Linked DNA regions of Homo sapiens. The protein of the gene in region 2 purifies or fractionates together with the protein of the main gene of each other region. This does not show direct contact. Each region holds a gene or a part of one and is shown on either strand. Other genes may lie near its edges.

Region 1 (3,655 bases), on a different chromosome or scaffold from region 2:
AAACCTAAAATCAAAAAAAATATGTGTAGAAAACAAAGAGCAAAATGAAGGACCTAAAACCTAAAAACCATTTATAGTCAATATATAAAAAGGCTTAATACCCCAGTTAAAATCAGATATGGATAAATTTTATAAAAACAAAGTAAACAAAGAGGGTACTGACTCTTGTGATAGTTGGATACCAAGAACCATCCCTCACTGGGGCATGCTGTGGCTCACACCTGTTATACCAACACTTTGGGAACCCAAGGCAGGAGAGGATTGCTTGAGCCCAGGAGTTTGGCACTAGCCTGGGCAACAAAGTGAGACCCTATCTCTACAAAAATTAAAAAAATTAGCCAGGGGTGGTGGTGTGTGTCTGTGGTCCTAGCTACTCAGGAGGCTGAGTCGGGGAAGATTGCTCAAGCCCGGGAGGTCGAGGCTGCAGTGAGCTGTGATTGTGCCATTACACTCCAGTCTGGGTGACAGAGCAAGAGCTTATCTCAAAAAAGAAAAAGACTCCATGATTTAATCTAATCAACTTCAAAAACCCAACTCATTCCTCCACACGCCCTGTGCCTTGGCCATAGCATTTACCTCACCATTCTCCTATGCATTATCTATTTTTAGACCTCTGTCTCCCTTTGTTTAAAATGTTCTCCCAGCCTGGATAACATAGCAAGACCCTGTCTCAACAAAAAAAATAAAAATTAGCTGGGTATGGTGGCATGTGCTTGTAGTCCTAGCTACTTGGGAGGCTGAGGTGGAAGAATTACTTGAGCCCAGGATATTTGAGGTTACAGTGAGCTATGGTTGTGCCACTGTACTCCAGCCTGGGCAACAGAGACCCAGTCTGGATGAGAGAGAAGAGAGAGGGGAGAGAGGAGAGAAAAAAGAAAAGAAAAGAAAAAGAAAAAGAAAGAAAGAACCCATCATCTATGAGTGCTGTCCTCACTGAACACCAGAGGCTGGGTATTGAGTTTACATCAGCTTTTAATGAGCTCTCACTAGGTTTCTTCACCCATTCAATGGGAAGGTCTGCTTCAGAGCCATAATTGTGTTCAACGGGACTAGGTTGCAAGGTTTAATAACTCTTCTCTTCTTTTTAAAATTTAATTACTTTATTATTTCACCTTTTTTTTTAAAGCCACATGTAGGCTGAATTCATTTAATTTGACAGAATAACACTCCTTACTGCTAATCCTGATCAATTTTAGCTTTGTGTGTCTTTGGGTTGGATCCACTCAGATAAGAGGACAAAAGAGGGCCGGGCATGGTGACTAGTGCCTGTAATCCTAGCACTTTGGGAGGCCAAGGTGGGCGGATCACCTGAGGTCAGGACTTCAAAACCAGCCTGGCCAACATGGTGAAACCCCTGTCTCTACTAAAAATACAAAAATTAGCCTGGCGTGGTGGTGGGCGCCTCTAATCTAAGCAATTTAGTGATTTGAGCTGGGCTCGGGAGGCTGAGGCAGGAGAATCGCTTGAAAACCCAGGAGGCGGAGCTTGCAGTGAGCTGAGATCGTGCCATTGCACTCGCAAAAAGAGCGAGACTCCATCTCAAAAAAAAAAAAAACCATTCAAAAAGAGGACAAAAGGTTCATTTGGAAAGAGGATATTAAGAAATAAGGAGAAATCATGAAGGGAATTTTAAAATGAAAACATATTTAGTGGCATTGTTTTCTGTTAGGTTTCAAAAAAGTCTCCATTCCAAGTGAGTATTGGTTTAGGAATTTCTTTCTCCTTATTAAAAGTGTTTTCCTATTTACAGTGAAAATAACTTTAGTAAAATTTTGTGAGTACTAAACTTGGATTTTAAAATCAGAGATTTCGATTATATAGTCTGGAGCCTCAGGATTTTAAGTTTCTGTAGGATTGGGTAAAATGCCATTGTAGATTTTTTGGTCATCAGATTATAGAATAAATACTTAAAGTAACTTCAGATTATTATTTTCAAAACCATAGCAGAAACTCTTACCTTACCTATCTTATTGAGAGACAATGTGAAGCCAAGACTAATGGAGTTAGTGTGCTACATTGATGATGAATGACTGGGTAGTACACCACAGAGGGCTGTGTCATGGAGTGTAAAGGTGTTATTCCATTCCTACACCCTACCATCCGTCTTTCCCCATTAAATCAAGGTCAGGGAATGTTACCTTATGTGATTAAATCTGGTAGAGTCATCATTAAACAGGTGAGATAAATCATATGCAGAGTAACCTACTTTTGGTATTGATGAGACTAGGGTGGTTCTTAAGTATTTTATGGAGATCAGGGTATCTTCCTAAATCCAGATGAAGAGATCAGGTTAAGAACTGCTCGCTTTCAGGCTCCACCTGAAGAAACTATGTAGTAGGCTTCTCTCCCTCTACTTATTTTATCATCTTCTTTGATCTAATAAAATGTTTTCCTTATCAATAAGTAATGTTATCTAGTTTGGCTCTACCAGGTGCTAGAGAAGGCATTCATCATTGTATTGTACTTGCAATAACTCTAATACAGGAAAATGTTCAAACCACCCATAATAAAAGTAGCTAAAAAGCAGATTTCTTAAAGACTTTGTGACCGTTTAAGCTCAGCTGACCTTTCTAAGTTGCATGATTCTTAGAAAGGTCCCAGAGAGATGTCTATCTGGTGCTATATAGCAGTTGCTAATTAAATATTTTTTAATTGAATGATTGATATGAGTTGAACACCCAGTAATTATATTTAAAAAGTGATGACTTCAGTGTTTTGACGCCTTTAAAAGGCTACAGTGGTACAAAATGTAGGTGCTACCATGTGAAATTTGAATGTACAGTGAAGTACATATATTCACTGCAATATCTAGAAATAAATATGTATTCTTATAGGTAGAGGCTAGTTTATCCTTGTAATTCTACTGATAAATATAAATGTATATATTGGGGAAATTTGTGGGACTTTTTCAGTATAAGGAAGAAAAAAATCTGAAAATTGAACTCACTGCAGAAGAAATTTTTTGTATTTTCGGGGGAAGTACCAACTAGATGTGCTAACACTTTGTATTTCTTTATGTTTAGTTGCCTCTTTTTTTTTTTTTTAAACGGAGTTTCCCTCTTTCACCCAGGCTGGAGTGCAGTGGCACGATCTCGGCTCACTGCATCCTCTGCCTTACAGTTTCAAGTGATTCTCCTGCCTCAGCCTCCCAAGTAGCTGGGATTACAGGTGCCTGCCACCACGCCTGGCTAATTTTTGTATTTTTAGTAGAGACGAGGGTTTCACCATGTTGGCCAGGTTGGATCTCTTCACATCCTACTGAGCAATAAATGAGATAGCCTAGAGCAGTGGTTTTCAATTTCAGGTAGTTTTGTTTCCCAGGGAACATTTGGCAAAGTCTGTAGACAATTTTTTATCTTTTTTTTGGAGACAGAGTCTGACTTTGTTGCCCAGGTTGGAGTGCAGTGGCATGATCACGGCTCACTGCGGCTTCCACCTCCTGGGCTCAAGCAATCCTCCCACCTCAGCCTCCCAACTAGCTGTACCACCACACCCGGCTAATTTTTTAATTTTTTGTAGAGACAGAGTCTCACTGTGTTGCCTAGGCTGGTGTCAAACTCCTGGCCTCAAGCAGTCCTGCTTCGGCCTCCCAAAGTATTGGGATGGTAGGTGTGAGCCACCACACCCAGCCTGTAGACATTTTTGATTTTTGGAA
Region 2 (3,655 bases):
AATGTAATTGGAATCCGTATTTCCTTTTTTAATTTTTCAGTGAACATATACTGAACATCTCCTATGTATAAGTTACTTAATCCATATGAATTCTGTGGGGAATGTGAAACTATGTAAGACTGCCTTTAGGCAATGTGCAAAGACAATGTACCACATGGGTTGCTTATCAGCTTTGTCAGTTATTCATATTTGGAGTGTATTACTTATAAAAGTTCACCTTTCATTTGGGAAAATGTAGTATTTAGCTCTAATTTCTTTTTTTTTTTTTTTTTTTTTTTTTGAGACAGAGTCTGGATCTGTTGCCCAGGCTGGAGTGCAGTGGTGTGATCTTGGCTCACTGCAAGCTCCGCCTCCCGGGTTCACATCATTCTCCTGCCTCAGCCTCCCAAGTAGCTGGGACTACAGGTGCCTGCCACCACGCCTGGCTAATTTTTTGTATTTTTAGTGGAGATGGGGTTTCACTGTGTTAACCAGGATGGTCTCAATCTCCTGACCTCGTGATCCACCTACCTCAGCCTCCCAAGCTTTAATTTCTTAAGCTAATTTATATTTGCTAATCTATGAACAGCTATGTAATTTATTAAAATTTTTAAGTTTATTGGTCTCTGAAAATAATAGAGCTTCACTAATTTTGAACTTTAAGAATCAGTTTAAAGTGAAATATCTAGTATCTACTGAAGATCATTCTGAGATTATTAGAACTTCATTTTCATTTTATATTTCAAGGAATTTGCAACTTAGTCATTATTTATTTATCCCTCCAGGGATAGAAATTGGTTAAAAAAAGAGTTCTCTGCTATTGTTTGGTGATACGCTTTTAAGACTGTACTAATTTGGTAATTGTGATACAACAGTTTCAAATTTGCTTGAATGTTTGCAGCATCTGTATTCCTCAGTACAAACTTGTGTCTTTTTTCATTGCTTTATTCTCACAGTCACTGCAATAACATAGCAAAATTAATGGATTAACAATATAAGGGAAACTGGCATTTAAGACACCAAAGGTCAACTATATTCTCTTAATTTCTTAAAACTTAGTGGAGAAGTTTCTGGTCAGTATAATTTTATAATTTGCATTTGTCCCTTTGATTTGTATCAACACTTCCTTAGTGTTTGTGTACTCTAAAAATAAATTTAGAAGTGTGTTTATTTGAAAGACACAAAATCTTAATTTTTTAAGTTAGTATGTATTTTTAAAGAATCACTTTAATATAGCATCTGTTGTATCATTTGTGCTTTTTTTTTTCCATTAAGGAATAAATGCTAAATTACAGTTTTGATCCTTACTGAAGGATCAGGAAATCATAGATTGAATCCTTGACTGAAATGTCTTTAAATAAGTTAATCTTTAAAACTTCTGCGGTGCTTTAAGTGTCTTGAATCACTGATGTTTGTAACAATTACAAGTACATTCCTGGAGCCAGTTTGTATCTCATAAATCACAATACCTGCAAAATGACAATGTGGGCAACTCATATCTATTTATATTATCAATGGATGGTAAATATATGTTCATGTCTATCAGTGAATATCAGGCTAACTGGTTTTTATGTCAGCAGACTGAGAACTATGAGCAGAGAATACGTGAACAACAGGAACAGCTGTCACTTCAACAGACTATTATTGACAAGCTAAAATCTCAGTTACTTCTTGTGAATTCCACTCAAGGTATGTTCATGTTAATTTTTTATGTATTTCTAGAACCTCTTGGTGAAAAGAAAGGTGTAAGTTGAGTTTTTCTATTTTATTCCTTCGTTGTTTCTCAATAGTTTTGATATTATAACTGTGGTACAGTTATATGTTATGTTTATTTAAATGAACACTTGCAGGATATGGGAAAGTGGACTTTCACATATACTATACTATATGGTAGAACTCTAAGTTTATAAAACTTCCTAAAAAGCAATTTGCCAGTAAATAGCAGCAAAAGCTTTTGAAAACATCTATGCCTTTTGAACCAAAAACTCAAGTCCTAAGACTATATCATAAGAAAATATTTGTTCAGGTACTCAAAAATATATATGCGAGGATGTGTATCACAGTATAATGTCTAATCATGGAAAGCTAGAAACAAATATTCAGTAGTTACACTGATCTATATGAATAGCTATGTAGCCAAGAAAAGTGATGATAATAGGTATTAACTTGTAAGAATATGTGGACGATATATAGCAAAATGAACAAAGCAGGATACATAAATAAGTGTTTTTTTCATTTATGCAGAAAAAGGTGATTCTTGTGTGAAGTTATATGTATAGGAAAAGAAGAATTCTGATAGAATATATAAACCAAAATATTAACTGGAATAATTCACAGGTGATAAAAATTTGGGTAGCATTTACTTTTTATTCTTTTTGGCTGTCTGCATTTTCTAATTTTCCCATAATAAGCATGGAGTCATAATACAAATAATTATCTTAAATAAGAAACGCATACCTGAAAATGTGAATATAAAAGTTGAATTGTTGCTGACAGATGCAAAGAGCATATTTCTAGTTTTCTAAATTCTGCATATTTTACATACTGCTGGCTTTTGGAGAGCAGGGGTTTTGTGTGTTTGTTTAGTGGGAAGGAAAAAATATAAATGGACAACTTGTCAAAGTAACTATTACCTAAAGAATTTTCTAAAACTCCTACCTTAAAATGTATTCTCTTTATGGTTTTGAGTTTGTATTATTTTTTGCTTTTTCAGGTGGTACCAAAAATAAGGGTTTTCTGCTAATGTCCAAGAGGTTTTTGTCTTGCAGATAACAATTATGGCTGTGTTCCTCTGCTTGAAGACAGTGAAACAAGAAAGAATAATTTGACTCTTGATCAGCCACAAGATAAAGTGATTTCAGGAATAGCAAGAGAAAAACTACCAAAGGTAGACATTGCTTCTGCAGAAAGCAGCATTTAAATGCTGATGCGTGACATAGCTTCCTCATTTTATTTTTCTGAAGTGATCTGCTGGAATTCCAAACAGAAGTTCCATATATACAAATATGTGGCTTAAATATTTCTAAATAGAAGAACTATTTTCAAGTAAAATAAAGGCTGAGGTTTTGTATTTCCTACTGACCGTTTTTCTACATCACAAGCATTTCAACAAAGAAAACATTTAACAAAGAAATAGGGCTGGACACACTGACTCACTCCTGTAATTCAAACACTTTGGGAGGCCAAGGAGGGAGGATCACTTGAGCTCAGCAGTTTGAGACCAGCCTGGGCAACATAGGGGGATCCCTATCTCTATAAAAAATGAAAAAATTAGCCACGCAGAATGGCACACGCCTGCAGTCCCAGTTACTCAGTAGGAGGATTGTTTGGGCCTAAGAAGTCAAGGCTGCTGCAGTGACCCATGATCATGACACTGCATTCCAGTTTGGGTAACAGAGTGAGACCCTATCTCTAAATAAATAAATAAATGAATTAATGAATGAATGCCACATACATATGTACATATATGTGTGTGTGTGGTGTGTGTGTGTATATATATAAACAATGAAATAAAAGATTAAAATCAGGTAAATAATAAGACACAGATTAGATAATAGCTTTCTAGCTTTTTCTTCAATAGTCTGTGCTTAGTTTAAAAGAAAAATACACCCAACTAGCTTAAGCAAGACTCTATTGAAGTAATACAGAAAGAAATAGTACATATCTGCAAGGAGAC

The links.
Region 1: the proteins of TANK (region 2) and RNF115 purify together in Homo sapiens (affinity purification with mass spectrometry, with the first as the bait; one large-scale study listed by BioGRID). This does not show direct contact.

What each region holds. Positions count from the first base shown.
Region 1 is NC_000001.11:145,813,971-145,817,625, reverse strand, and holds part of RNF115 (E3 ubiquitin-protein ligase RNF115), read left to right. Parts: intron 1-3,655. UniProt on the Homo sapiens protein: E3 ubiquitin-protein ligase that catalyzes the 'Lys-48'- and/or 'Lys-63'-linked polyubiquitination of various substrates and thereby plays a role in a number of signaling pathways including autophagy, innate immunity, cell proliferation and cell death.
Region 2 is NC_000002.12:161,201,928-161,205,582, forward strand, and holds part of TANK (TRAF family member-associated NF-kappa-B activator), read left to right. Parts: intron 1-1,559; coding exon 1,560-1,668; intron 1,669-2,747; coding exon 2,748-2,866; coding exon of another isoform or gene 2,867-2,899; exon of another isoform or gene 2,900-3,049; intron 3,050-3,655.